7 linked regions of the Homo sapiens genome follow. The protein of the gene in region 1 purifies or fractionates together with the protein of each later gene. This does not show direct contact. Each region holds a gene or a part of one and is shown in the gene's direction. Other genes may lie near its edges. The genes, in order: CHD3, SAP18, BCL11A, SIN3A, SMARCC2, RBBP4 and RBBP7.

Region 1 (4,517 bases):
CATTGAGGTGAGAGCTGGGCCCAGTGTTCCTGAGTTCTCCAAGAGGGCATGAGGGCAGGAGGTTGGAAGTTGGTGCCTGGATCACTGAAGGTAGAAAGGACAAGACCTAAGAACCCTAGACATTTGTCGCCATTGCCTCCTTGCTCCCACCCTCAGGTGCTGGGCTTCAACACCCGTCAGCGGAAGGCTTTCCTCAATGCTGTGATGCGCTGGGGGATGCCACCACAGGATGCCTTCACCACACAGTGGCTGGTGCGGGACCTGAGGGGCAAGACTGAGAAGGAGTTTAAGTGAGTGTGGGTGATACAGGGCTGAGTTGGACGCAAGGGGAAGAGCTTTGGGTGTTCCTTTCTTCCTTGGGGCCGCCATATGATGTGACCTTACTCAACTGATTATCACCCTCCCTGTCATACAATACTTCCTGGCTCGATTTCCTGGGGGGTGGTCTCAGCCCACTCCACCTCCCCTCAGCCGAGCCTAGAGTAGAGGGGCCAGGCATCCTCCCCAGGGGAGGGGCGTTGAAGCAAGGAGCCTCTCCTGGGCTGTCCTAGCCTCACATTTACTTGACCACAATAACCTGGCAGGAGGAGCTGGTGGAAAGGATGAAGAGCTGACTGATGGGGCCCAGGAATTAAGTACCAAGGCCAAAGGGAAAGACCCAGGGGTGGGGCGCAGGGGGACAGTTAGGACTTGGAGGGCTGGTAATGGTGAGAGTGAGAGGCCCAGGGGAGGAGCCCTGGAGCACCTGGGGATTTGGGGGTTTGGGGGTCCTCAGTCATCCTCGCGCCTCCCTCACTGCCCTATACCCCTTCTGTGGCTCCCCTAACCCTCCTCCCACTCCCATGCTCCTTAGGGCCTATGTGTCTTTGTTCATGCGCCATCTGTGTGAGCCTGGGGCAGACGGCTCTGAAACCTTTGCCGATGGGGTCCCTCGGGAGGGACTGAGTCGCCAGCAGGTGTTGACCCGCATTGGAGTCATGTCTCTCGTCAAAAAGAAGGTATCAGTCTTCCTGTCACCCAAAGAATCAAGCTGGCTGCCTAGTCTCTGTCCTTCCTCTGCCTCTGTCCCTGAGTTGTAAGCTTGCGCTGGTGTGAGACGGAGGAGACTGGAGCTTCCTGTCTGTAAGCGCCTGGAGCTGACACCTAACCCTCCCACCCTGCCACCCCAGGTGCAGGAGTTTGAGCACATCAATGGGCGTTGGTCAATGCCGGAACTGATGCCTGACCCCAGCGCCGATTCTAAGCGCTCCTCCAGAGCCTCCTCTCCTACCAAAACGTCTCCCACCACTCCTGAGGCTTCTGCTACCAACAGTCCCTGCACCTCTAAACCTGGTAATCAGAAGTCAGGATGGTGGGAGAGACAGAAAGGGAGCCAGGAGTCAGGGCGGGAGAATCTCTGTCTTTATCACTGTGCCTTCCCCTGCAGCTACTCCAGCTCCAAGTGAGAAAGGAGAAGGCATAAGGACACCTCTTGAGAAGGAGGAAGCTGAAAACCAGGAGGAAAAGCCAGAGAAGAACAGCAGAATTGGGGAGAAGATGGAGACAGAGGTGTGTGGCTCCCTGGATTCCCCTGTGGAGCGGGAGGGGAGGGGGCTTGGAGGCCAGGTACCTGGGAGCCCTCTGGCTCATCCTGACCCCATTGTCCTCTTCCAGGCTGATGCCCCCAGCCCAGCCCCATCACTTGGGGAGCGGCTGGAGCCAAGGAAGATTCCTCTAGAGGATGAGGTGCCAGGGGTGCCTGGAGAGATGGAGCCTGAACCTGGGTACCGTGGGGACAGAGAGAAGTCAGGTGGGTGCATGGCCTTAGGAGTGATGGGGGATTAGAATTTGGGATTTCCCTCTTCTGGGGTCAGGGGATGAGGGTAACATCCTCCCTTCCTATCCCCTACCCCCTCCCACAGCCACAGAGTCGACGCCAGGAGAAAGGGGGGAGGAGAAGCCGTTGGATGGACAGGAACACAGGGAGAGGCCGGAGGGGGAAACAGGGGATTTGGGCAAGAGAGGTAATGGGTGGAAGGGACCGGACACCTGGGTCCCAGAGGGCATCAGGGGAGGTGGAGTCTGGGGAACCGAATGCTTGGGTCCTGGGCGGGTAGCTGTTTGAAAGGCCAGTACAGTACAGTACAGATAGTAGTCTTGGGACCTGGGAGGAGGGTGTCCTGAGGTGTGAGCTTTGACCTGTCTGTCCTAGCAGAAGATGTAAAAGGTGACCGGGAGCTTCGACCAGGGCCTCGAGATGAGCCACGGTCCAATGGGCGACGAGAGGAAAAGACAGAGAAGCCCCGGTTCATGTTCAATATCGCCGATGGTGGCTTCACAGGTTGGGGAGACTCTCGCTGCTTTCTGCTCCTCAAGGGGATCTGCTCATCCTCATGGGGTTTCTCGTTTTGCCTGAGGCTTCCTGCTACCTTTAATTCCAAGTAACTTCCAATGAAGTATGTTGCATGCTGACTCCGATCCTTGCTCTAAATCTTTCTTAAGTATCCCTCTTAACTCCAAAGCTGGCCCTAATCCCACCTTTATTCTTAATTCTAACGAACCTGGTTAGAACTGAGTTTGTTCCAAACCTAACCTTTACCCATTCCTCTTCAGGAGCCCTTAGTTCCCTTTCATTATTCAGTTTCTCCATCTCTACCTGTCTGTTGGACTGAGTGCAGTCTGCAAAACCCTGTTACCTCTTCTGTCTGCTGCCTTCTTTGCAGAGCTTCACACACTGTGGCAGAATGAGGAACGGGCAGCTATTTCCTCGGGGAAACTCAATGAGATCTGGCACAGAAGACATGACTATTGGCTTCTGGCTGGGATTGTCCTGTATCCTTTGATACACATGCAAGAAGGAAAAGGTTCTCTCAAGCTGGCAAAAAAAAAAAAGATGATTTCACACCCAGGGACAGGGCTAGTGCCACACTTTGGGGAGTCAAGCCAAAAGGAAGAAGTGTTCAAAGCCAAGCCCATTCCTGTTAAATTCCTTGATGGTTCCTTTTCCTTCATTGGTAGCCATGGCTATGCACGGTGGCAGGACATCCAGAATGATGCTCAATTTGCCATTATCAACGAGCCATTTAAAACTGAAGCCAATAAGGGGAACTTTCTGGAGATGAAAAATAAGTTCCTGGCCCGGAGGTTCAAGGTGGGAATGAGGGAGGAAAGGAGCGGGTTATAGACGGGCTTGGGTCAGAAGTGAGACCAGATCTAGTTGGAACCTAGGGAAGGTTAACACCTTCAGGGCTGAGGTGATACCTGGGGCCAAGACCAAAGTGTAACCTTGTGCTTGGGAGTGTGATCTGGGTCAGGGTTGCTGCTAGGTTCGCAGTCGGTTTGGAGCTGGGAGTGCCCTGGGCCAGCAGTGAGGGCAGGGTGGGTCTCTTGCTATGTCCGCCCCCCCAGCCCCTCACCCACTGCTGGCAGAGCCCTACCTTCACCTCCCAACTCTGTGCCCTCAGCTCCTGGAGCAGGCGCTGGTGATTGAGGAGCAGCTGCGGCGGGCGGCCTACCTGAACCTGTCGCAGGAGCCGGCGCACCCCGCCATGGCCCTCCACGCCCGCTTCGCCGAGGCCGAGTGCCTGGCCGAGAGCCACCAGCACCTCTCCAAGGAGTCGCTGGCGGGGAACAAGCCGGCCAACGCCGTCCTGCACAAGGGTAAGGGCCGCGGCGGCCCCGCGCGGGGGAGGGCCCACAACGCTGCGTAAGTCTTCACCCCGCACCCCTCAAAATCTTCCCACCCCCTGACCCCTCTACCTGCTGAACCATCCCCCTCTGACCTCTAACCCCACTCCTACCGACCTGGCACCCCCTTGGATTTTAGCCTCTAGGACTTGTGCAAGCCAACCCTCATCCATGTCTGATAGCATTCACATCCGTGCCCAATAGAGGGACCTGCCCCAGCCTCTGTGTCCCCTCCACACAGTGGGGCCTCTTCACTGGCAGTGGAACTGCATGCCTGCCATACTGCTTAACATCATCCAGTTAGGGGCCTTGGACTGTGAATGCACCATACAGATCCCTGGCTGTGATCAAACAAATCACATTCCCTCACATGTGTTTCACCCCATAAGGCAGAAACTACCACCCATCCAACCCTCTGGCCTTACCCCATGAAACTTCCCTTTGACCTTCGACCTTTCCTCCTACCCCCTCTCACCTTGCCATTGATAGAGATTATATCCCAAAGCCCTCTAACCATCTAATCCTGCCTGGTGTAGTCACTGACTCCTGGCCCCTTTGATCCCTGTTCTAATTCCTTGAATCTGTAATACTGACCTTCTAACCTCCCTCTCCCCTTACATATTAAAACCGTGATTCCTTAAAGCTTTGACACTTACCACCTCCCATGCCTCCTGACTATTTCCTCCCCATCATCCCCAACCCCAAACCTTGCTCTTCCAGTATGAGATGTTCTGACAACTCCCCGCCCCCATGTCTTCCAATGTCCCCCCATCTTCCTTTCCTCCATGCTCCCTTTTTCTTTCTTCTTTCTCTCCATCTGTCTTCTGTGGTAATCTGGTCTCTCTGTCTCT
Region 2 (4,257 bases), on another chromosome or scaffold:
GAGTAGCTGGGATTATAGGCTACAGATGTGTGCCACAACGCCTGGCTAATTTTTGGATTTTTAGTAGAAACGGGGTTTCACCATGTTGGCCAGGCTGCTCTCGAACTTGAGCTCCTGGCCTCAGGTGATCCACCCGCCTTGGCCTCCCAAAGTGCTGGGATTACAGGCATGAGCCTCCGCACCTGGCAAAAAAATGTATACTAGGTTATTTCTAAGATGCTTATATGTTAAAATATTTTTTTCAGATTGTTCTCTTATTAGCTCAGGGGACTATATGAAAGTTGGATTCAAGTCAATATTTGCAGGGTAAGAAACTATTGTGACAAGAGCCTGTGCTTCATTGTAAGAAACTTTTGTATATTTCATTGGCTCTAGTACTCTTATCTGTTGTAAAACTTACAATTCTATCTAAGAAAGAAGAAACACATCTGGCTGGGCGCAGTGGCTCACGCTTGTAATCAATCCCAGCACTTTGGGAGGCCAAGATAGGTGGATCACTTGAAGTCAGGAGTTCGAGACCAGCATGGCCAACATGGTGAAACCCTGTCTCTACTAAAAATAGAAAAATTACCTGGGCGTGGTGGTGGGCGTCTGTAATCCCAGCTACTCAGGAGGCTGAGGCAGGAGAATTGCTTGAACCTGGGAGGCGGAGGTTGCAGTGAGCTGAGGTCACGCCACTGCACTCTAGCCTGGGCGACAGAGCGAGACTCTCTCAAAAACAAAACGTCAGTATGAAAATGCTTTCCTAGTACATTGATTCTAAGATACATTCCAATTTCAGAGATGCTAAAATGTGGAAGGGTACATGTCTTAGAACTAATGGGATACATCTATTTTGCATATTTGGATTTATTTGGACTAGTTACCCTTAGGTAAATCACTAGGCCATAAGGTGTTGTGTAGCAACAGAAGATAGCATATAGAATCTCTGAAGTCCCTTTTAGCACTAAGAGTCTAATTAATTGAAATTTCCAGCAGTAAGGCTGGTACATGGAGTTTTTGGAGGCAAATAGTATTTTTAGCTGCTTTAAAATTAATCTCTAGTATAAGACCCTGGCAGTTTCTAATGTAAATCACAACTCAGATATATGTAATTAACTCATTGTTAGTATCCCTTTTAATATTATTGCTGATTAATAAGCAAATGTAAATGTCTTTTTTAAAAAAAATCCAGGATGGATGCAACCTTGAAAGAACTGACAAGCTTAGTAAAAGAAGTCTACCCAGAAGCTAGAAAGAAGGGCACTCACTTCAATTTTGCAATCGTTTTTACAGATGTTAAAAGACCTGGCTATCGGTAGGTAACTTCTCATTTTTAAGTCCTGTAATCTCTTTGTTTTTAGTATGTTTTAACTGATACAGATAACTCCTTCAATGAATCTTGTTAGTGGGAGAATATGGGTTTATATTAATACGTGGTTTGGCTTAATAAAGTAGTTAAATTTTGGAAGTGTGTTATAAAATGATGGAGAAAATCCAGTGCCATATTCACTTTGTAGTACATACTGGGTTTCATTGATTTGGATCCATTAACAGTTGATTTTCTTTCTTACAGAGTTAAGGAGATTGGCAGCACCATGTCTGGCAGAAAGGGGACTGATGATTCCATGACCCTGCAGTCGCAGAAGTTCCAGATAGGAGATTACTTGGACATAGCAATTACCCCTCCAAATCGGGCACCACCTCCTTCAGGGCGCATGAGACCATATTAAATTCTATTTACTATTTGTTGAATTTATTTTTCCGTCAGTTATGTAAAATAAACATACTCTTCTTCCTCCCCTGATTATTGCCATTAAGCCTTTAAATTCTAAACAAATTATAATGCATCATCTATTTAGGAGTTAGATTTGGATGTGCTATTGTATGATTACGAATAGTCTGTATGTTTCAAGCCCTTCTGTAAAATATGAAGAAAAGTGCTCTTAGCATTCTGTGTAAAACTGTACTGTTAAATATATGTGTGTAATCAGCCTGAGTGTGAAAGTTAATGGAGGCCTGGGAACAGGGTTTATACTAAGTAGTGGAGGAGCGTATGGTTAAGCCCAAAGGGGCAGAACAAGAAAGCCACGGGATTGTATGAAATCAAACATGAGTTTGTGGTGTAGACTGCTGTATGCAGTTGGAAAGGACACGTGAGAGTGAGCTCAAGTGGCAGCAGAGGCAGTTTGGAATAAGCTGCGGCAAGTTGAAGAAGCTGTGTTGGACGAGATTGCCCCGCCTTGATCAGGGTACCATGACATAAAAGGTTAAAGAACAGGCAACACAATGAGCACTTAAGTTTTTAACATGTGGGGAATAGGGCATTTTAAAGGCTGGAACCAGTTCAGAGGAAACAAGGGTTTGGGTAGAGGTAGAAAGGTTTAATTAACCCTGGAGATCTGCAAATGGAGGGAGGGGTGAAGGAGGAATCTTAAGACCGAGGGAGAAGAGCCAAGGACAAGGTCAGGTTGAATGAGTAGGAGGTGTTCACACATCCTCTTGTGTGCTAGGTAGTGGCGTGCATCTGATCTGAGAGGCAGTAAAGCAGTGATGAAGACAGTGCAGCAGAACATTGAAGTCCTGATTGCAGCAGTGACTCTGCAACCTTGGATAAATTATTTCAATCTTTATTTTGTAAAACGGAGATAACGGCCTATAGGATTGTTAAGACTGAATATTTTAAAAGAGCTTAGAATGGTGCCTGACAAATGAGAAACAATAAATACTGATTATTGGCCATAAAGTGGTATTAAAACTGGATCTCTTTTCTTCCATGGCACTACTCTCATTTTGAAGTTTATGAACAGTACGACAGTGTATTGTAAATTCCCTTTAGTTTGTTACAGTAGCCAATTGAAAATGTATATCCCAAAATTTAAAAAAAAAAGTACCAGCAGCAATAAAATTGCACTAGTTTTATCTGGTACATACAAAAACAGCCATTTAAAATCTGATGATTCTGTGGAATTGGTGTCCCTGTTAGCAATGGCAGAGACCAGCCTGGAGCCTAGATCTGGTGCTTCTTCTGTGCTGTGGTTTACCCCAAACCTTTAGGTTGTTTATTCATTCAGATTAGATAGACTGGAGCCATAAAGTTAATTTGCACCTAGCTTTTTGGAGAATAGCCATGATTAACTGCTATTCGTGGTGGGGGTGGGGGGGAACCCTATGATTTACTATGCAGATGAAGAGGGTAGGAACTAAATAAAGGACTTTGTAAGCCAAAGTGGTTGGGCTGCTTTGTCAAATTCCACCCTTTGCTTGGTTCCAACATGGAATTTCTCCTTTAAAGATTTCAATATCCCATCAAAAGTACAGTTAGAGAATACCTAGTGAATTTATTGAATATAATGCTAAGAATCAAAAGACTTGTACTAGTTTACCTCTGGCTTTGGTAAGTGTGGCTTTGAGTAATAACTGAGCTGTTTCCCCGCATATAAAATAGAAATAAATAAGTAGTCATCATGACAGCATCTTGCTCAGTGCTTTAGTGTCTGCCCTGGTTGCCTCATTTGCTCCTAGGTATTTTGGAATTGACGTTTTCCCTTTGGAATATGTGTTACAGTACATGATATTGCCTATAATGTCTTTTTAGTTTTTCACGGTGTACAAAAACTGGGACGGTTATGCCCAGCTGATCATTGACTCAGGTAATGTTTTAGGTATCGGTTGTATGCATGTGAGGGGCAGGTGTGAATGTAGAAAGAAACATTATTAGGCTAGGTTTAAAATTCTCTAAAGTTGAACATAATAAGGAGCTGAACTTGATGCACCTCTTTCTTGTTCAATTAAACACATTTCAGACTTGTTTTTGTGAAATAGAAGGCAACACTCTAAATCAAGTTTGTAACTATGATTTAAGTGTTTACTTGTGCCAAACACAGATGGTTCCCAAGTTATGATAGTTCAACTTTAGATTTTTCAGCTTTGCAGTGGCGCATAAGCGATAAGCCATTCACTACGGTCCTCAGCTTATTATGGGGCTACATCCCAATAAACCAGCTGCCAACTGAACATCTTATAAGTAGAAAGGGCACTTCTGACTTAGGATATTTTCAACTCATGATGAGTTTATCCAGACATGACCCCCTAAGTAAGGAACATTGATACTGTGCTGAGGAACAACTTTACCAGCATTACCTCATGTAACCACAACTGAGATACAGTGACTATAGTTGCTATTTATAGGTGACAATGAGGCCCAGATTGAGGGGCTACTTTAACAGCTCAAAAATGGGGCATTGGACCTAGGTAGCCAAAAATAGAGGATTAGTT
Region 3 (4,517 bases), on another chromosome or scaffold:
GGAACACATGGTATGAATCATGCATGGCTAAAAGGTTAGGGGGTGGGCAGTGATTCCACCCTAAACACAAAAAAGCAGGTTCAAGAAGAAAAGAAGTGTGACATCTAATTTTTATTTGAAAGTAAATGAAAAATAACCTGCTGTGGAAAGAAAAAAAAAGAAAAGGAAAAAGGTCATGGAGAGAGAATAACAAAGAGCAAGATGCCAGAGTTAAGGCTCTAAGGGGGACTGTTTTTAGATGGGAGGGAGATGACACTTACCCATCTTGTAAATGGTATCTGAAGAGCAGGGCATGCACCCTGAGACCAGATTCAAAGCCAGTTGTTTATTTTTGTTAACTCCTAGGTAATCCTAGGTAACAAAGAGTTATTGTGTGAATTTCATAAGCCCTCAGGTCCTGAGGGCTGGGTGGTTCAGGGGTTAAAAGCACCTCATCTGCTCCCTTCCCCCAAGCTGGGCCTAAGCCTGGGTTAGGTCACAGATTGCAGAAGGTTTAGGAGGTTGGGCTCACGGTTTCTAGTCCCTGCATGCTGGCTGGGTGGGGAGAGCTCTCCTGTTGCTGGGGGCATCTGGGGCCTGCATGGGGCTGTGGAAACGGAGCCACTTTTGGAGGGAAGGGATAGAAGGGAGTTGAGCAGTTCAGAGGAGGGTGGAGTTGAGAGGCCAAGGGCTGTTGCCAGGGAAACATAGTTCTCGGTCTTCAGCCTGGTCTTCCTGAGGGCTGGGAGTTTGATTTGACTGGTAGGAAAGTCTGAGCTTGATAGGGAACCCCTGTCCTCTCCCACCTTCCCACAAAGGGAGGGTACATAGTTTGCTGGTGCCCCTGCTGGCAGGACCAATTTAGGAGTGACCAGAACAAGGTATGTGGAAGTGGGTTGTGGGGGTCCAGAAAGCTCTAGAACAAACCTGATGCCCATTCCACTTGGCGGCATTAACCTGCTGCCCCTGGCTTCCAGAGCTCATAGCACTTCCCTGTGGCCACTCTGCTGTGTGCCAGTCACCCCTGCTCTTTAACTAGAGCCTCCTTTTGGCCTGGGTTAAGGCCTGGACTGGGACCTTCCTCTGGAAGCCGTTCGGGGTGTGTAATGTGGTTAGTCATTACCCTCAGTAATTAATCACCCCTGGTAGTAATGAAAACTCACATTCACATTCGACCTGATAGTTTACAGAGGGCTTTTATATACTTCTGTCATTTGAACTTCCCAACAATTCTTACAGGTACTGTTTTTATGCTCATTTTACAGATAGGAATTCCAAGACTCAGAGAAATCAAATGACTATCCCAGAGTTACAATCTAGTGGATAATAGAGCTAGGCCTCCAGTCTCAGACCTCCTTGTTCTTCTGAATCTTGAGGCTTAGATCACATGACTTTTTCACATTGGTGACATACTAGAAATGGGGGTCATTCCTTCCCATAAAGTAAAATGAAATAAAATAAAAGCCAGTAGGTGGGCTAATAGCTGATTTTAACCCTTTTGATGTCTCAAGTTCCTATGCTTAGGGGCCAGGTGTCAGTTTATTGCTCTAAATCAAAACAATCCCCGTAAATGCCCAATGAGGCTCTCAAATTGAGAAGTTGATTTTCATCAGAGTAAATGAAGAATATTATTATATTTTACACATCAATAAATCAATGTAGCCCTAATTTTGCCACACAGGAAATCAATTCCAGTCTTTCTAAATCATCAAAGATGTTATGAACAAAGTAATTTCACAAATTATGGCAAGTAACACATTTATTGATGACTGCAGTTTAGGAATTTAGAATCTGTGAGCACTGTAATATAATATGGTACACCGGCATGAGCTGAGTGAAATACAGATTATATGGTGAAATTGTAATGCATCATTTGCTATTAGTGGACTGGTAATAATTACCAGTTTCAAAGCAGCTCTCTCCATGTAATCTTTAGTCTCAATCGTAACAGCCCTTCTCATTGACATTATGATTACACTAGCTGCCCTCATGATCTAGAATATCTAGTTGATGGGAATACTAAAATGCGATAGTGAAAACTGTATGTTGTATGCTCATTATAAGATAAAATGCCATTTTCTCTGACCTGATGTATGAGAGAGAGGGGAGGATAACATCACAGTGTTAACATACTGTAGCATGATCACATAACTGGCTCTGAAAAAAAGTTTAGGATGCTCAGGGCAGCAAAATAAAATGGACTTTTCTCATTTAAGCCTTTTTGAAAGGATACAAATGAGATCCTTGATGTAGTGCTGTATGCCACAGATTTTGGCATTTATCAATGACTACAATTCATGGCACATGTGAAACCAGCACCACTAATTATGAGTCTAGTCCTGGATTTCAATCGATGTTTTATAAGGTAAAATATAATTTTAAGGCATTTGGAGTGATGAACGTGTTAAGGACTTGGATTATCAGACAAATCTTTTTACTTGCCCAACTCAGATCGTCAGGCTAAATAGGAATGATAGTCACCCAGAGATCTAGGGAGGACAAGGAGGAAGCCACAGAGGATCATGTAGTTGGAACCAGATAGTTTTTTTTCCAGCCTATTTGGGACCCAAGTTATTGTTCAACAACAACAAAAAATTTATAAAAATGTTCTCAATGAAGCTTTTTATTTCCCTTTGAAGAGAGGAGGCAAACAAAAATAGGCAGATAATGTGATACTAATGTCAGCGTTTTCTTTCAAAATCTTTCTGCCTTTTTTCCCCCTTCCACATTAGACAAATGTTTGAAACCTAATTTTGGTATCTTACCATCTAATCTTGTTTAAGAGATTTACCCAGGAGTGAGATATATTGAGTGGGATTATAAATGCGTTGTAAAGTAAATTACAAGGTCAGGGCAGGAGTCCATTATTTAGACAAGTGCTTGAGCGAGGCTGGCTTATTTTGGAATACCAGTGTTTGGGGGCTCCTGAGAAGACCCTGCCGGCTTTTCTTTCTGACTTGCTAAATGGAGGCATCATATAATTGATTAATTCCTCATTCTCACTCTTAACCTCCCTGGTAGATTTTTTTTTTTTTTCCTTCTTAGAAAGTTACTGACAAATACTAGCTGTGGCCTTAAAGAACTCTTGCAGCCCTTCTTTTAAAAGAAGGAGAAAAGTTTGTTATTTCTCAGTTATATTTTAAGGCTTTTTTTTTCAGAATCTCTGGGAAGTTTTGTTTTTCTCATCCTCGTCCTTTGGCTACCATTACTTCTGCCCTTTTTAATGTTGCAGTTGACTAGTAAACTGTTGGTCAGTTATTCCATATATATATATATTTAATGTAGCTATCTCCCCATATATATTTAATTTAGCCATCTCCCCAAATGAAATATTTTGTGAAGTCAAGCTGGCCCTTCTTTGCCAAAGTGGCATTTACCACTCTTGGGTTCTTTTCAGCAAGGGAAATAATGTGACTTAAGCAGGGCCCCTCTCCAGACGGCTTGGCTACTGGCCAGAGTTGACTAGCTGAACTGTATCTTTCTGTTTCTTTCTCAACTGGAGCTGAGTCCCAGCCGAGGGCGCAGGATGTTGTATAATTTGGTTCACGTTGTTAGCCTCTCAAAACAATGAGGAGGAGGATAGTGTAGCATTTCTCAGCCTGCTGCCTGTCATGGCGCTGGCTGTTTTAACTGTTCCTTAAACTAGGATGCTGTGTCTGCTTAAGTCGGCACCAGCCACTCCTCCTAACTTTTCCAGACTTGCATTTGTCTGACCGGGGGACAACTCCTAAAGATTGGATACAGCCTATCCGTTAAATCTGAATGAAGTTTTTCTTTCAGATTTTTTAAACATTCTTTGAGATAAAAATGGACGTCCCCATGGGGTGTTGTGGAACCAAAATTGGGACTCACTGATCCTCCCACAGTCTGGGGTGTGAGAATGTTGCTAGTCTTTTTTCCACGGAAGTATTTTATGAGTACCCTCTCATTTTAACAATATCAACAATTAGTGTGTTTCAGGCTAATGCTGAAAGCATCTTTAGGGCCATAGAACATTGTAGTGAGTTGACCTTCTTCCCCTTTTTTGATACCTCTATGAAATGTTTGCCTATTTAGAAAGTTCACCTGTCACCCAGGGGGGAATAGAAAGCTGGGATTTAGGAAGCCAAAAAGTTTCCTTGGGTCACCTTGTCCAAGTTTCTCACTTAACAAGGAGGAAACAGAGGCACATGGAGATGAGATGGCTTGCCCCAAACTACAGCTGATGGAACTGGAAAGTTTAGAAGACATTTGTTGAGGTGCCTAGAATGTAGGGACCTTCATCCTCAAGCCAGAACTGGTCAGGATTTTTCTGCTTTGGGGATTGGATATAAAATTTCTAGAACTGAGTTTAATGGCAGGAAGATCAATTGGACCAATATTTACTGGGTACCCATGCTCAGACGTGCCAGGCACAGGGGGTAGGTCAGTGAGGGCTTAGGCCTTGGGGTTGAGGGGTGGGGGCAGGGAAGGCTGGAGGTGGAACATAAATAAGCAATTGCTGATGCCCGCCTCAGTGATTAAACATTGATGTTGGTGTTGTATTATTTTGCAGGTAA
Region 4 (4,517 bases), on another chromosome or scaffold:
TGCACTCCAGCCTGAGCAACAAGAGTGAAACTCCGTCTCAAAAATATTTACTACCCTAGTTTTGAAAGGAATTGTCATCCACCATCTTCAACTTTTTTTTTTTCTCAACTTGAAAGTCTGTGGTCAGAACGGGTGCTAAGAACATAGACTTTCTTCTTACATGCAGCCTAAATAGATAACAGTGATTCCAGAAAGCGTGCAAAGATGAGTGACTCAAAACAGTAGCCCAAATGATCTCTTTTCATTTGCAATTCCTCAGAAAGAGCAGAGAAATGCCAAGGAAGCTGGAGGAAACTACACTCCAGCATTGACAGAGCAGGAGGTGTATGCCCAGGTTGCTCGTCTCTTTAAAAACCAGGAAGATTTGTTGTCAGAGTTTGGACAATTCCTACCAGATGCCAACAGCTCCGTGGTATGTTTTTTTAATAAGAATTACACTATTTACTATTATTATCTTAGATGAGTTGGAAAACTGTGCTCAGAAGGGGACTTTTCCTAGATGATATTTGTTTGCTTTGATAAGAGCATTAATCTCATTCATGTGTCTTAATCAGCTTTTAAGCAAAACAACTGCTGAGAAGGTTGATTCTGTGAGAAATGATCATGGAGGCACTGTCAAGAAGCCCCAACTGAACAACAAGCCGCAGAGGCCCAGCCAGAATGGCTGCCAGATCCGCAGACATCCTACAGGAACCACCCCTCCAGTTAAGGTGAGAATGGGCAGCAGCTGCTCATTTTGACACTCACAAGTATTTCTAATGGAGAGGTACTCTAGAGGTGGTCATGTGTTTTGTTGTTGTTGTTTTTTTTTGTTTTTTTGAGACCGAGTCTCGCTCTGTCGCCCAAGCTGGAGTGCAGTGGCACGATCTCGGCTCACTGCAACCTCTGCCTCCCGGGTTCAAGCGATTCTCCTGTCTCGCCCTCCCGAGTAGCTGGGACTACAGGCGCATGCCACCATACCGGGCTGATTTTTTTTTTTTTTTAGTGGAGACGGGGTTTCACCGTGTTAGCCAGGATGGTCTCGATCTCCTGACCTCATGATCTGCCCGCCTCGGCCTCCCAAAGTGCTGGGATTACCTGTGCCCGGCAGTCATGTGTTCTTAAGTGTGTTAACGGTTGGGTCCTAGATATTTGGAGGAAGTTAGTATTGTGTCACAGAAACTCAGTGCAGAGTTTATCTGGCTTTGCAAAAGAGTATTAGAATAACATTGATTGCTTGGATTACTGTACTTTTCTGAGTTCTTTATTATCTCTCCTTTGCAATGAGCTGTCATTTCTTTAATGTTTTGGTTGCTACTAAGAATTTCCAATACTTGAAATTTTTTTCCCTTCTTTTTTTTTTGAGATGGAGTCTTGCTCTGTCGCCCAGGCTGGAGTGCAGTGGTGTGATCTCAGCTCACTACAACCTCTGCCTCCCGGGTTCAAGCAATTATCCTGCCGCAGCCTCCTGAGTAACTGGGACTACAGGCGTGTGCCACCACGCCCAGCTAATTTTTGCATTTTTAGTAGAGATGGGGTTTCGCCATGTTGGCCAGGCTGGTCTTGAACTCCTGACCTCAGGTGATCCACCCACCTCGGCCTCCCAAAGTGCTGGAATTACAGGCGTGAGCCACCGCGCCTGGCCCCTTCTTCTTTGATGCTTTAAATCTGCCTTGTGTTAAGAAAGAACATTCTTGAGCTTGAGAATTATTTCAGAAATAAGTGGTCTCTGAGGTCCTCTTGTGAGTAGAGTGCATGTGTTTTTTGAGATCTCTGGTCTAGAACCCTGTCCTGCTCAAAGTTCTTTGTTGGGTTACCAGATCTTATGTGTATCATCTTAATCTCCAAGGCAGGACCTTTGGGCTGTAGCAGAGGGAAGTCTTAAACTCCTCTTAGTAATCCATTACATGATGTTTTTTGTTATAGTTAACACTGATGGTCTGCCTGCAGAAAACTTAGCTTGCTCCCTTCTTTGATGTAACACAGCTATGATAGGGAGAGGGCTAGTTGTATGTATTGAATGTTTAATTCTTCAGTGAATTTCAAAGCAGTATGTAATATAGAAGAGACAGATATGTCTGCAGAATTAAATAATGACAAAAGTTTGGGAATTTCTAATAGTAAGAGGTGGCTGATGAATAGTGATTGACTGACTACAAGGTCTGACGTACTAGGTGTTACTGACACTTTTGAAGTATCCTTTTCATTAGTGTTTGTCATGGTTTCTTCTTTTGAAATCTTTTGAAATCAAGTTGAACATAATAATGGTTTCTATTTCTTCATTTCAATAAAGAGAATTAGTTATATGGGTAGCAAGAATCAGCTCAGTAGATACACTCCATGCTTGGATTTACGTCCGCCCACTCTTGATTACCTACAGGTGGCAAGAATATAGTGGGGGCTTAAAATTCTCCGCCTACTTTCTCCATAGGCAGTGTAAGCAGAGGCTGCGGCTCTTAAGAAAGTATACTCTGAGATAGCCAAGGTAAATGTGCTACTTCTCACAAAGTTTGTGCATTTCTTCATAGAGAGTAAGTGGTGGATTTTAAAAGTAACTTCTTGCCTGACAGGATTATATCATGGCCTGTTGGTTCCCTTTAGAAGAACAATATTAAATTAGTCTGAGTGGATATTGCTGGCGTGCCTTTTTTTTTTTTTTTTTTTTTTTTTTTTTGAGATGGAGTCTCACTCTGTTGCCCAGGCTGGAGTGCAGTGGCGTGATCTCGGCTCACTGCAGCCTCCACCTCCTGGGTTCAAGCGATTCTTCTGTCTCAGCCTCCTGAGTAGCTGGGACCATAGGCGCACACTACCACGCCCAGCTAATTTTTTTGTATTTTTAGTAGAGACGGGGTTTCACCATGTTGGCCAGGATGGTCTCAATCTCTTGACCTCATGATCTGCCCACCTTGGCCTCCCAAAGTGCTGGGATTACAGGCATGAGTCACCATGCCCAGCAAATTATGCTTTTTAAGTAAATTTTTAATTGAAATATTATTCAGGGTTAAAGATTGATTTCTGTCAATTTGTGAGCTCTTTTTACAAACAGCCTTTTCTCCCTCAGCTGGTAGGAGAACAAAACAGTGGCATTAGATTCTACATGAAGTTACTTTGGGCCCCTAGAAAAAGTAAGGATATTCTAAAAGTTTGTCACAGTAATGTCATGATCATTTCTGGAGAAAATATTTTGGGGGTAGAATGATCTTTGAACCTCTGTTGTAGAAAGAAACTTAATAGGCAAACTGAAATAGAAAATATGAGTTGAAATCTTAGAGGGTATGGAGTGAGTTGGTTAGAGTTCTCTCATTTGTTTCAAATTATTAATCAGCAGTGGTTTCAGTGATGAAACCATTGAATACAGACAAAAATAAAATTCAGAGAAAACCACTCGTTGAATCTCACATGTTTGTATCTTTCTTTTGCAGAAGAAACCCAAACTGCTCAATCTGAAGGATTCTTCTATGGCAGATGCCAGCAAACATGGTGGTGGAACAGAATCGTTATTTTTTGATAAGGTGAGTAATGGATGAGTTAGATTTGATAGTGCCTGTTAATGCCAAAAGAAAATCATCTTATCCCCCTGGAAGGTTTCGTTTTAAAGGTGTCAGGCTAATTAGGACTTTCTGTTTTTTAACATAGTTTCCCAGTTGTGAGTCCTTTGAGTCTGCTAGTACTATTAGCATAGCTAGAAAAATGGTAGCATTGTTTGCTTTGGTTTTATGAAGCAGTTTGGGGCAGAAGACAGATTTTTAGAAAATGTATTATGTTTCTCTTGAAAGATGTTTGGAGCTCCCATTGTAGATATCCAGGTCTGTGTGGCAGGCAGTACCAGTGCCTGTACCAATTTTTGAGGATTTAAGATGACTTGTAATCTTTTTTTTTTTGAGACGGAGTCTCGCTGTCGCCCAGGCTGGAGTGCAGTGGCGCAATCTCGGCTCACTGCAGGCTCCGCCTCCTGGGGTTCACGCCATTCTCCTGCCTCAGCCTCCCGAGTAGCTAGGACTACAGGCGCCCACCACCTCGCCCGGCTAATTTTTTGTATTTTTAGTAGAGACGGGGTTTCACCGTGTTAGCCAGGATGGTCTCGATCTCCTGACCTCGTGATCCGCCCGCCTCGGCCTCCCAAAGTGCTGGGATTACAGGCGTGAGCCACCGCGCCTGGCCGATGACTTGTAATCTTATTGCTGTGATAGTTATTTGTAGTACACACATACATAGCATTCAGGGGAATTCTAATTTACTTGCATGTTTTCAAAGCTACCCAGCTGATTCTAATGAGCAACGAGAGTTGAGATTATTGGCATAAATGATGTTGTGTGGTGCCTTAGTTTGGCCACATAAACTTAAGTGTGATTTGCTCCTCGGAGTCAACTTGATGATTAGCAGGAAACTTTCATCAGGGTAGCTGGCACCTGTTGGGCTTCTCACTGGTAGGAATCAACCTGGATTGATCTGTGGTGATTGACTCTATTTTCTGCCTCTTGGGTTTTGCAGAAGGGCAGATGATTTAACATCTCCGTGATTAGTATCTCCTGATCCCT
Region 5 (3,979 bases), on another chromosome or scaffold:
CTGCAGCCAGTGCCACTCGTGAGTGGACAGAACAGGAAACCCTGCTTCTCCTGGAGGTAATTGGGGCAAAGAAAAGAGAGTTTTTCTCTGAAAACAGAAGTGGGCTCCGTGTAGAGGCTCACGCCTGTAATCCCAGCACTTTGGGAGGCCAAGGCAGGAGGATCACTTGAGTCCAGGAGTTCGAGATGAACCTGGGCAACATAGTGAGACTCCGTCTCTACGAAAAATTTTAAAAATTAGCCAGGTGTGGTGGCACACACCTGTGGTCCCAGCTACTCAGGAGGCTAAGTGGGAGGATTGCTTGAGCCTAGGAGGTCAAGGCTCCAGTGAGCTTCAGGACCAGCTCCAGGCTGGGGATTTGGGCCATTTCATTAACTTCATATCCTTTCTTAGTGCTACTTCAAGATCCCCCTTGGACCTAGCAGAGTACACAAATACCAGAACATAGAGAACTTTGAAACCAGCTGCCCTTAGTAGGATGGGGGGAGTCAGCCTTCGAGAAAAGTGGCTAAGTAAGCGGAGTTATGTCTCCACCACTACCACCAGGCACTGGAAATGTACAAAGATGACTGGAACAAAGTGTCCGAGCATGTGGGAAGCCGCACACAGGACGAGTGCATCTTGCATTTTCTTCGTCTTCCCATTGAAGACCCATACCTGGAGGACTCAGAGGCCTCCCTAGGCCCCCTGGCCTACCAACCCATCCCCTTCAGTCAGTCGGGCAACCCTGTTATGAGCACTGTTGCCTTCCTGGCCTCTGTCGTCGATCCCCGAGTCGCCTCTGCTGCTGCAAAGTCAGCCCTAGGTAATGGGGGTGGGTGGTTCCACCTGGCCTTCTTAGTTTGCTTTTGAAGGGCTAGTTACTCAGACTGTGAATCCTCTCAAGTTTGGCTGCCCTGCTGGCCTTGTCTGTGCGGGCCTCAGCTCAGGCACCTGTCTAGGCTCCATACTAGCTTAGATGAAGACATGGGCTTGTGAGTAAGCTTTTGCAGGGATTGCCAGAACTGTTCCACTGTGCCGCTCCCAGCCTCATTCTTTCTGGGTCTTGCAGAGGAGTTCTCCAAAATGAAGGAAGAGGTACCCACGGCCTTGGTGGAGGCCCATGTTCGAAAAGTGGAAGAAGCAGCCAAAGTAACAGGCAAGGCGGACCCTGCCTTCGGTCTGGAAAGCAGTGGCATTGCAGGAACCACCTCTGATGAGCCTGAGCGGATTGGTAAGGCCAGGCAGGTTCCCAGATTTCTTGCCTTTCACAAGATCCAGAGCTACCTGGCCTCCTGTGCCATTTCTGCCTCAAGTTGGCATTAGAGCACAACATGAATGAGAACATTGGTAGGGTTTTTATTTTCCCCATGAGTTTACCTCAGGGGCTCTGGAGCCCTACTAGTCCTCTCATGAAGATTTTGGGTAGAAAAATCTTTGCTTGTAGAAGGGGCTGTTAGAAAAGTCTTGTGAAGGCCGGGCGCAGTGGCTCATGCCTGTAATCTCAGCACTTTGGGAGGCCGAGGTGGGTGGATCACGAGGTCGGGAGTTCAAGACCAGCCTGGCCAAGATGCTGAAACCCTGTCTCTACTAAATATACAAAAATTAGCTGGGCGTGGTGGCACGTGCCTGTAATCCCAGCTACTTCAGAGGCTGAGGCAGGAGAATCACTTAAACCTGGGTGCCAGAGGTTGCAGTGAGCCAAGATCAAGCCACTGCACTCCAGCCTGGGCAACAGAGCAAGACTTCGTCTCTCAAAAAAAAAAAAAAAAAAAAAAAAGTCTTGTGAAGGCTGGGTGCAGTGGCTCATGCCTGTAATCCCAGTACTTTGGGAGGCTGAGGTGGGCAGATGGTTTGAGACCAGTCTGGGCAACATGGCAAAATCCCGTCTCTACAAAAAATACCAAAAAAGTTAGCCAGGCATGGTGGCATGCGCCTGTAGCCCCAGATACACAGGAGGCTGAGGTGAGAGAACCACTTGAGCCTGGGAAGTCAAGGCTGCAGTGAGCCATGATTGTGCTACTGCACTCCAGCCTGGGCGACAAGAGTGAGACCCTGTCACAAAAAAACAAAAAACAAAAAAAAACAGGTGTTATGGAGAAGCTGGGTGCAACGGCTCACACCCATAGTCCAAGCTGCTCAGGAGGCTGAGGTGGGAGGATTGCGTGGGCCCAGGAGTTTGAGACCAACCTGGGCAACACAGCAAGACCCTGTCTCTAAAAAAAAAGAAAAGTGTTAGACACAGACGACTGTGTATTAAACATTTCCTGTTTTCTTTCTTTTCTCATGGGCCCAGAGGAGAGCGGGAATGACGAGGCTCGGGTGGAAGGCCAGGCCACAGATGAGAAGAAGGAGCCCAAGGTATAGAGGGATTTCTGGAAGCTGCAGGGGCTGCGTGCAGCACTGTGGTGATGGGGAAGTTGGCCTTGTTCAGCTTAGGTGGGCAAGGGCTGGTTTTGGACGGGGTTGTCTCCTAGAATCAGATCACCTCCAAAGTAAGAGGAATAAATTTAGTTCCCCGTCTGGCCCCTCTGTGTGAGAACTAATCACCCTAATCCCTGATAACTCTCCTTTTCTATCACTGGAATTTCAGGAACCCCGAGAAGGAGGGGGTGCTATAGAGGAGGAAGCAAAAGAGAAAACCAGCGAGGCTCCCAAGAAGGATGAGGAGAAAGGGAAAGAAGGCGACAGTGAGAAGGAGTCCGAGAAGAGTGATGGAGACCCAATAGGTGAGCCTCCCACAAGGGTAGGTGGGGGTGCAGGACAGAGGTGAAGCTGTGGGGCTAACTCAACCCTTGTCCTGGCCCAGTCGATCCTGAGAAGGAGAAGGAGCCAAAGGAAGGGCAGGAGGAAGTGCTGAAGGAAGTGGTGGAGTCTGAGGGGGAAAGGAAGACAAAGGTGGAGCGGGACATTGGCGAGGGCAACCTCTCCACCGCTGCTGCCGCCGCCCTGGCCGCCGCCGCAGTGAAAGCTAAGGTGAGGCCAGACCTTGAAGACCTCAGGGAAGAAAATGTCCACTTCTCTAATCTCATCTCACTTAGAGGAAATCTTTCCTCACTCACACCTTAAATAATGCTGACCTATTTATTTTTTATTTTTATCTCAGGAGGAGGTAAAGTTAGTCATCCCTTCTCTAAGCTTTAAAAAATATATCACCATTGGGCCTGTTTTCAACCCTGTCAGTATTTGACTCCATGTTACCCTTTGCCACACTATCTCCATGTTCTTCTTTTGAGACGGAGTCTTGCTCTGTCAGATCTCGGCTCACTGCAGCCTCCACCTCCCAAGTTCAAGTGATTCTCCTGCCTCAGCCTCCCGAGTAGCTGGGACTACAGGCGTGCTACACCACGCCTGGCTAACTCTTTGTATTTTTAGTAGAGATGGGGTTTCACCATGTTGGCCAGGCTGGTCTTGAACTCCTAACCTCAGGTGATCCACCCGCTTTGGCCTCCCAAACTGCTGGAATTACAGGCGTGAGCCACCGTGCCCAGCCTCCATGCTTGTTTATTTATTTATGTATTTTTTGAGATGGAGTCTCACTCTGTTGCCCAGGCTGGAGTGCAGTGGCACAATCTCGGCTCACTGCAACCTCCACCTCCCAGGTTCAAGCGATTCTCCCACCTCAGCCTCCCAAGTAGCTAGGATTACAGGCACGTGCCAGCATGCCCGGTTAATTTTTGTATTTTTAGCAGAGATGGGGTTTCACCCTGTTGCCCCAGGCTGGTCTCAAACTCCTGGACTCAAGTGATCTGCTCGCCTTAGCCTCCCAAAGCGCTGGGATTACAGGCATGAGCCATCACACCTGGCCAAAATAATTTAATTTTTTAAAAAGGCTGGGCGCAGTGGCTCACGCGTGTAATCCCAGGACTTTGGGAGGCTGAGGCAGGTGGATCACCTGAGGTTGTAAGTTTGAGACCAGCCTGGCCAACATGGTGAAACCCCATCTCTACTAAAAACACAGAAATTAGCCGGCGTGGTGGCGCATGTCTGTAATCCCAGG
Region 6 (3,269 bases), on another chromosome or scaffold:
AGCAGTAACAATGCAAACACCACTCTTCTCTTCACAAAGATCACCTTGAGACTGTGTCTCCATTCCACCTGCCTGAGAAGTGGGAGCATCAGCCTGTTCCAGGCTCTTGGGTAGTAGCATAGCCCTTTAAAAAGAGAGAGCCATTTTCCATGTGTTTTTGGATAAGCACAATTTGAAAATCATTTCCCAAATCCTCTTTTTGTTTTTGATTCTAAGGTAAAATTTTCCCTAAGCCCTCCCACCATCCCCTCAGCCAGTATTAGATGAGATTTGTATAGCAGCAGAAACTGACTTATAAGTAGAGAGCTCTTCAGCAAGACTGAGCCTTAGCTGTTCCATCTCTTTGTTCTTCTGTTGCTGGAGTTGCACCCCATTTCTTAACTGCCTCTGGCGTTCTTCCATTTCCTCCAGCTGTTCCTGCATGAGATGGCCAAGAACATTTCTAATGAGCCAAACAATAAAAACTCACATTGTCCACTCTTACTTATAAAACACTTTTTTGTTCATTGTTTAATCTTGATAGCAGTATTGAGGCTGGTATTTATATGATAGGTTATGAAACAGGTTCAAAGAAGTTGTGTCTTGGAAAAAAAGTGACAATGCTTTTGAAAATGATGACGAAAAAGGCATCTTGTCTGTTAACCACAGCTTGCTTTAATAGAATCCTGGGAGGGTGATTGGGACTTTTTAGTATTACAACCTTAGTGTCATTGAGGAGGATTTTGGTCTAGTTAGTGGGCTGAGTTTCATATACCTCTCCCTCCATGTGCAGGTTTGTTAAGATAATTGGTAGTTTTTAATAATATAAAATACTTAAGTTGAAATACAAAAGTGTGGCAACAATTATTAAATATTGGCTAGAATTCTAGGAGAGTTACACAACTAGTGGAAGTCCATGTTTAGAAAATAAATGGCTTGTTTAAGGAAAAGTTTTTGTGTCCAAAGCTCCTTAAAGTCAGAGAGATTTCTACCTGGTACTTAACATCATATGGAAATTGATGCTTTAGTGAGGGTGTTGGCTATCCTATTGCTAATTTCCTGCATCCTTTTTTCTTCTTTATTTTTGTATAGAGACAGGGTCTCGCTATGTTGCCCAGGCTGGTCTTGTTCCTGGGCTCAAGCAGTCCTCCCGCCTCGGTCTCCCAAAGTGCTGGGATTACAGGTGTGAGCCACTGTGCCCAGCTTATCCTTTTTTCATTACACAAAAAGACTGAATTTGGTTAGTTCTAAGTTGGAAGATAAAGATGGTATGCACAGGAGGCCCTTGGGAGCCCTCAGATAACTTTCTCATTCTTCCAGAATCAGGCTGGGATGCATTCTGTAAATTTTCCCTGCCTAGGATGTATACCTGAGGAATAAGGTAAGGAAGATGTCAGCAAGTCAGTCTCTGGTTTACCTGCTAGCTGGCATGGATCCTTAAGGAAGCAGGAGGGAGTTGGGAAGAGAGGAAGGGGTGAAGTTGGTATCTTTTAAAGCGAGAGTGATTTTACCTCAGATTTTGAAGAATACTAAGGAATCCAGTTGTTGGGGTACATGCTATTATTAGAAGGATCTAGATAATTTGTCCTCTGAGTCATACTTGACATTGTACCTGTGGCACATCAATCCGCACTGTTTGATACTCTGGCTGAATCTCAGCTTTCACCAACATTGTCAAAGGACCTTTTTTAGTGCCCAGCCATGCCTAAGAGTGTGTCATCTGAAGAGGGAAGCATCTGCATACTGCTGTCCTGATTGCTCAGTCCTCACTACCTACCAGACCCGTTGGTAAGGTACAAAAGTACATGCTTGGAAAAGCAGTCTGCACCACCAGTGATAAGCTGTGACAGAGTGGAACAGCCTCAATGAAATGAAGGAAGGATTGCTACAGTGGCATTAAGGATGGTCTCTTAATCCTGTGTTAACCACTAGATTAACTTTACAATCAACTCAAAATCCTTCAAAGGCTTTCCACTTTCTTTAGTGGCATTCAGACCCCCTCTAGTTTGACCCCTACCTCCAACTTGAACCTCTGTTACTCTTCCGTATGAACATTTTCCTCTAGCCCTGGACTACTAGTACCGAAGTCACTAGTCACATAGGACTCATTTGAAATATGACTAGTCTCAATTGAGATGTAATGTAAGTGTAAAATACACAGCAGATTTCTAAGACAGCACACAAAATGTAAAATATGTCAAAAATATTTGATACTGATTACATGTTGAAATATATGTGTTGGGTTAAATAAAATGCATTAAAGTTAATTTCATCTGTTTCTTTTTTTAATAGAGCTACCAGAACATTTAAAATGACATCTGTGGCTTGCTTGCAGTGATAGACAGCACTACTCTAGCCTAACAACTCAGATCTGTGTGCCTGTGTTCCTGCCACTTTTTTCACCTAGACAGCCAGTCCCTTGTTTTCTGCTGCCTTCTACCTAGATACTAATTTCTCAAGGGCCAGGACATGTCTGTCTACAGTTGCCCCAGCACTTGCATTGACAGCATTGCCAGTTTTAATTTTCTACATAGGACAAAGACAAAGAAAGGATACATTCCCCAACTCAGGAAAAGGGGAACTGCTACAGCAATAGTAGTATAAAGTAACAGGTGCTGTGGAAACAGGAGGGTTATCTGTCGCACACTAAGGATATCGGGAAACTTCAGGAAGAAGGGAAATGGGTTTAAAGGATGAGTAAAGAGTTAAAGGGGAAGAAGAGGTCTAATCAATGTATAGTCATGGAATTGTGGGAAAGTGGCTTACTAGTTCATTCCTTGCAACCCTATGGATATGGGAGTATTATTAATCTCATGTTTCATGTGAGGGTGCTGAGCCACAGAGCTTAAGTAATTTGTCCAAAGTTTCCAACTTAGTGATAGAGCCAGGATTTGCCATTGGCTTAGAGCTCATACTCAAGGTAACAGGCTTTTTAGTGGTTCTCAAACTTTTCTGTGCAACCCCAAAAGCTGGCCAAATTGGAGTGCCCTTGGTACTTTTCCGTTAGAGAATAACTCCGCTTTTAACTGCTTTATATATTGCATTCTATGTAAAATTATCTGGGGGAGAAGGTCCACAGCTTTAGAGAAAACTTTAGTTTTGGAAACCACTAGTCTAAAGAATACATAAAACTGGCCAGGCACAGTGGCTCATGCCTGTAATCTCAGCATTTTGGGAGGTTGAGGCGGGTGGATCATCTGAGGTCAGGAGTTCGAGACCAGCCTGGCCAACATGGTGAAACCCAGCCTCTACTAAAAATACAAAAAATTAGCCGGGCGTGGTGGCAGGTG
Region 7 (4,517 bases), on another chromosome or scaffold:
CACGCCTGTAATCGTAGCACTTCGGGAGGCCGAGGCAGGCGGATTGCCTGAGCTCAGGAGTTCAAAACCAGCCCAGGCAACAAGGTGAAATCCCATCTCTACTAAAATACCAAAAAAAAAAAAAAACCGGGCGTGGCAGCGTGTACCTGTAGTCCTAGCTACAGGCTACAGGGAGGCAGAGGCAGGAGAATTGCTTGAACCTGGGAGGCGGAGGTTGCAGTGAGCCAACATCGCACCACTGCACTCCAGCCTGGGCGAGAGCGAGACTCCATCTCTTAAAAATAAAAATAATTATTATAATAATAATCTAATGTATATAAAACTGCTCTTACAGTGGCCGGGTTCTCCATATGCAAACATTGATTTCTATACAGATAGGAATTTCCACTAGGCTTCCCAAAAATCTAAATATAAATGTACAGATGTGGGAAGAGTAGAGAAGAACTAAATGATGGAGACTTGGAAGCATTGACGTTTACAGCCACAACAGATTGAAAAATAGATTAAGCATCATATACTCGGGTATTCAAGTTCTGGTTTGGAGCATCGTGTGCATTTGCCTCTTTGGTCTGTTAAGCAGATTTAAAATGTATTAACTAAATTTACCTTTTGGGGGATCTTTTTGACCCACTGTAACATAATAGAAAACAGCAGGGGCTTTAAACTTAGAGACCTGGGTTAAAATCATGCCCCTACTTCTTAGCTTCATGAACTGGGGCCGTGTTGTCTGGGCTGTAAATGGAGATGTTGGTCATACTGACTACCTACATTTGAGGGAATGAAATAAGATCATGCATGTTAAAGTGCCTGGTGCAGCATAAGTACACGGTAAGTGGTGACTGATGCTGATTCTCCCACCCCTTCCTGTTCAGAAATAATTTGTCAGGATTGAAATAGCTCTGTTTCTTCATTTGGATTTCAATGAAAGCTACTTGCTGAAGTTTTTTTTAAAAAAATGTTACCTATAATATGTAATACTTAGGAATGTAACAAAATGCTTTAATTAAATTATTTAATGTGTATCATGGTGTTCTTTGTATACAAAGCTGTTGTGGGATTGGGTTGTGGGATGTGCAGTGGCTTAGAGAATGTAAGAAAATGCCAAGCAGCCTGCATTCTTGGATGTTGAGGATTGTTGTGTGGTGCTTTGCAGGGTTCAGTTTGGGGTATAAAGGGACTGTGTTTTATCACCATACAGAACAGTAAAAATGTTGACTATTCTCAATGCCTGACTCTGAGGAACAAGATCCTACTCCACCTCATAGGCCTTTCTTCTGCTGACTTACAACATGCTTCATAACGATTACTTGGACTTTCTTAGCTATTGTCCTTCAATTGAGTTAGGTAATTGTCCAAATAATTGATTTGGCTGGCTGGCTTGCTTTCTTGCTTTCTTGCTTTCTTTCTTTCTTTTTTTTTTTTTTTTTTTTTTTTTTTTTTTTTTGAGACAGTCTCGCTCTGTCTCCCAGGCTGGAGTGCAGTGGCACCATCTTGGCTCACTGCAGCCTCCACCTCCCGGGTTCAAGCGATTCTCCTGCCTCAGCCTCCTGAGTAGCTGGGATTACAGGTTTGTGCCACCACACCCAGCTAATTGTTGTATTTTTGGTAAAGACAGGGTTTCACTATGTTGGTCAGGCTGGTCTCAAACTCCTGACCTCGTGATCCGCCCGCCTCGGCCTCCCAGAGTGCTGGGATTACAGGTGTTGATTTGGCTTTTAAAAGGTTTTATTTAAGTATCTCTAAGAAATTTGTTTTAATTAGATAGTTATTTCATATCTCTTGTTGAATAATGTCTTAAATATATTGAGACTAACTTATTGTCTACCTAAAAAGCTTTGTAATTTTTCAAATTCAGGAAGTATAAAAGGACATAGAGTGAAGAATAAGTCCCCTTTCCACATCCCTTACTGTCCTACTTCCTTTCCCCAGTCATTGTTTTCAATTTCCTAACCCATCCTTGCCAGCGTGTAGAAGTGCATACCTGTATCTTCATTTTTTATGGTAGCAAGTTCTTCACTTGAGTTTGTCAGTAAGAGTATGTATTGGAGATTTTCCTGTCAGCATGCTTGGATATGCTTGTTCTTTTCAAGAGTGCCATAGAATTTTGTTTATGGATACACTGTGTAATGTATGATACCAGTTCCTTGCTGATGGATACTTAGTTATTTTCAGTCTTTTTCCTTCTATAAACAATACTGCTGAGAATAATCTTGCAATAGGCCAGATTTATGTGATGCTTGGCTAAATTTCCTAGTGGTAGTTACTGGGGTCAAAGGATTCTGCACTGAAAATGAATAGGCTTTCTTAACCATTAGTCCTTCTGCAGCCTTTAGGTACATCCAGTATTGGAGGAAAATAGTGTCATATTGATTAGTTTAGGAAAACAGGCTGTGTTTTAATGATGGAGGTGAAGGGATTTCTAGTAAAAAGAAAAGTCCTCATATGATGATCAAGTTGGGGAAAACTGGAATAATTAAATTTGAGTCCAGAGGGATTTTTAAGCTCCTCCAGTCCGTCTTGGGACAGTGTTCCTTAGAAAGGGCCTGTGATAAACTGACCTACCTGTTATTTTTTACTTGTTGGTCTTAGTTTTCCTGCTCAACTCCACAAAAAACAAGTGACTTTTTTCCTTTGATGACAGTACCAGCATTGCTCTGTGGTGCCTTCTTTCTCTCAAGCATTATTATTTCTCTTTTTAAATATTTATTTAAATTTTTGTTTTTTGTTTTTGTGTTTTTTGTTTTTTGTGGAGATGGGATTTTGCCACGTTGCCCAGGCTGGTCTCGAAGTCCTGGGTTCAAGCAATCCGCTTGCCTTGGCTTCCCAAAGTGCTGGGATTAGAGGCGTGAGCCACCACATCCGGCCAAATATTTATTCTTTTTTTTTTTTTTTTTTTTTTTTTTTGAGACAGGGTCTTGCTATGTTGCCCAGGCTGGACATGAACTCCTAGGCTCAAGCAGTCTTCCGTAGTAGCCCTAGTAGCTGGTACTACGGGTGCACAGCACTGCACCTGGCTTACCCTTTCATTTTAAGCCACTATTCCCTGTAAAGGTTTGATTTTTATCCAAGTCCTCATAAAGTATGTTGCTTAGAGCCTAATTTTAATGGTTTTACTGGTTAAAAATAAGTGGGCAAGCCAGATATGGTGGCACACATCTGTAGTCCCAGCTGCTGAAGAGGTTGATGTAGGAGGATCAACTTGAGTCCAGGAGTTGGAGGCCAGCCTGGGCAACATAGTGAGACCTTGTCTCTTAAAAAAAGAAAAGGTCGGGGGTGGGGGGCACATGTGCTCATGTGCATTGCCCCCTACATACATATAAAGACCACCTAAGATGGAATTAATTAATTTTTTGATAGCCACATCATATTCTTGGCCCACTGTGCATGTATCAACCAAGACCCATGTTTTCTTTCTTTTTCTTTTTTTTTTTTTTTTTTTTTGGAGACGGAGTTTCACTCGTTGCCCAGGCTGGAGTGCAATGGTGTGATCTTGAGATCTTGACTCACCACAACCTCCACCTCCCAGGTTCAAGTGATTCTCCTGCCTCCGCCTCCTGAGTAGCTGGGATTACAGGCATGCGCCACCATGCCCGGCTAATTTTGTATTTTTAATAGAGATGGGGTTTCTCCACGTTGGCTAGGCTGGTCTCGAACTCCTGACCTCAGGTGATCCGCCTGCCTTGGCCTCCTAAAGTGCTGGGATTACAGGCGTGAGCCACGGCGCCCATTTGTCTTTTTTTCAAACACGTTGCTATTGCTTAGTCACGGCTGCCTTACTCTGTTTTGGGGGGAGTGTGTCTGTGTGTGTGTGTGTCTCTTCTCCATGTGCACACACTTTTTTACCGTAAGCCAAATTTTGGTAAAATTGCATCTTGTATTTTCTTATTACTAAATTACTTGCCTAGAAGTAATCTTCAATCTTTTTAGAAAAAAAAAAAAAATTGAATCCTTTGTGCAGCTGAAATTTAGAAACAGATAAATGGCCTAACTTGTCTTGTGTTAGGGCCTAGACCCCTACTTCTCAGTCCTCTTCATTGAAGTGGGACCATGGAGCACAGTTGAAAATTGTATTCTAGATAATACAAATGGGAAAGCCTTTTTAATAGATACTGATGCAAAAATCACTGCTCGGACCAAGGTGCCAAGAGGTTTGGGCAAGTTCTTCAGCCTCAAGGTGTTTCCACAGAACAAGGTAACAAAGATACCTCGGTAAAATTGAGAATGTTCGTTTCATAAACTTAGGTATCATAAACGTCAGTGAGTTTCACATCATGCCATTTGCACTTATAGCCTATTTTATTCAGTGAAGAAACTGAGGCCCCAGGGAGGTTGTGTTTTAAGCAACTGCATTTTAGTTTGATCCAGGATTTAAGCTAAGTTTTTTTGATTCAACACTTTCTGTCCATACTACCTTGTAGAATTTCTTATTGGGAAATAAGAAACATCTAGTGTATAAGATATTTTTAGGTGGGAAGAAGATTTCTTTAGGTGGGAAGTTGTGATTTATGAGTGTGGGG

The links.
Region 2: the proteins of CHD3 (region 1) and SAP18 purify together in Homo sapiens (affinity purification with mass spectrometry; 2 studies listed by BioGRID, with this or other methods). This does not show direct contact.
Region 3: the proteins of CHD3 (region 1) and BCL11A purify together in Homo sapiens (affinity purification with mass spectrometry; 3 studies listed by BioGRID). This does not show direct contact.
Region 4: the proteins of CHD3 (region 1) and SIN3A purify together in Homo sapiens (affinity purification with western blotting; 3 studies listed by BioGRID, with this or other methods). This does not show direct contact.
Region 5: the proteins of CHD3 (region 1) and SMARCC2 fractionate together in Homo sapiens (co-fractionation; 3 studies listed by BioGRID, with this or other methods). This does not show direct contact.
Region 6: the proteins of CHD3 (region 1) and RBBP4 purify together in Homo sapiens (affinity purification with mass spectrometry; 9 studies listed by BioGRID and IntAct, with this or other methods). This does not show direct contact.
Region 7: the proteins of CHD3 (region 1) and RBBP7 purify together in Homo sapiens (affinity purification with mass spectrometry; 8 studies listed by BioGRID and IntAct, with this or other methods). This does not show direct contact.

What each region holds. Positions count from the first base shown.
Region 1 is NC_000017.11:7,905,700-7,910,216, forward strand, and holds part of CHD3 (chromodomain-helicase-DNA-binding protein 3), read left to right. Parts: coding exon 1-7; intron 8-156; coding exon 157-290; intron 291-423; exon of another isoform or gene 424-561; intron 562-853; coding exon 854-998; intron 999-1,169; coding exon 1,170-1,332; intron 1,333-1,426; coding exon 1,427-1,548; intron 1,549-1,653; coding exon 1,654-1,789; intron 1,790-1,901; coding exon 1,902-2,003; intron 2,004-2,191; coding exon of another isoform or gene 2,192-2,194; coding exon 2,195-2,320; intron 2,321-2,702; coding exon 2,703-2,811; intron 2,812-2,997; coding exon 2,998-3,130; intron 3,131-3,443; coding exon 3,444-3,639; coding exon of another isoform or gene 3,640-3,685; intron 3,686-4,517.
Region 2 is NC_000013.11:21,145,631-21,149,887, forward strand, and holds the end of SAP18 (histone deacetylase complex subunit SAP18), read left to right. Parts: intron 1-1,174; coding exon 1,175-1,297; intron 1,298-1,555; coding exon 1,556-1,712; 3' UTR 1,713-3,467; downstream 3,468-4,257. UniProt on the Homo sapiens protein: Component of the SIN3-repressing complex. Enhances the ability of SIN3-HDAC1-mediated transcriptional repression. When tethered to the promoter, it can direct the formation of a repressive complex to core histone proteins.
Region 3 is NC_000002.12:60,462,421-60,466,937, reverse strand, and holds part of BCL11A (BCL11 transcription factor A), read left to right. Parts: intron 1-4,513; coding exon 4,514-4,517. UniProt on the Homo sapiens protein: Transcription factor. Associated with the BAF SWI/SNF chromatin remodeling complex. Binds to the 5'-TGACCA-3' sequence motif in regulatory regions of target genes, including a distal promoter of the HBG1 hemoglobin subunit gamma-1 gene.
Region 4 is NC_000015.10:75,406,029-75,410,545, reverse strand, and holds part of SIN3A (paired amphipathic helix protein Sin3a), read left to right. Parts: intron 1-259; coding exon 260-412; intron 413-554; coding exon 555-710; intron 711-3,401; coding exon 3,402-3,491; intron 3,492-4,517. UniProt on the Homo sapiens protein: Acts as a transcriptional repressor. Corepressor for REST. Interacts with MXI1 to repress MYC responsive genes and antagonize MYC oncogenic activities. Also interacts with MXD1-MAX heterodimers to repress transcription by tethering SIN3A to DNA.
Region 5 is NC_000012.12:56,168,505-56,172,483, reverse strand, and holds part of SMARCC2 (SWI/SNF complex subunit SMARCC2), read left to right. Parts: coding exon 1-56; intron 57-546; coding exon 547-805; intron 806-1,051; coding exon 1,052-1,213; intron 1,214-2,275; coding exon 2,276-2,340; intron 2,341-2,572; coding exon 2,573-2,708; intron 2,709-2,788; coding exon 2,789-2,955; intron 2,956-3,979. UniProt on the Homo sapiens protein: Involved in transcriptional activation and repression of select genes by chromatin remodeling (alteration of DNA-nucleosome topology).
Region 6 is NC_000001.11:32,683,966-32,687,234, forward strand, and holds the end of RBBP4 (histone-binding protein RBBP4), read left to right. Parts: coding exon of another isoform or gene 1-124; 3' UTR 125-292; coding exon of another isoform or gene 293-417; 3' UTR 418-2,246; downstream 2,247-3,269. Other genes in the region: SYNC (syncoilin), read right to left, coding at 1-124, 293-417. UniProt on the Homo sapiens protein: Core histone-binding subunit that may target chromatin assembly factors, chromatin remodeling factors and histone deacetylases to their histone substrates in a manner that is regulated by nucleosomal DNA.
Region 7 is NC_000023.11:16,863,451-16,867,967, reverse strand, and holds part of RBBP7 (histone-binding protein RBBP7), read left to right. Parts: intron 1-4,517. UniProt on the Homo sapiens protein: Core histone-binding subunit that may target chromatin remodeling factors, histone acetyltransferases and histone deacetylases to their histone substrates in a manner that is regulated by nucleosomal DNA.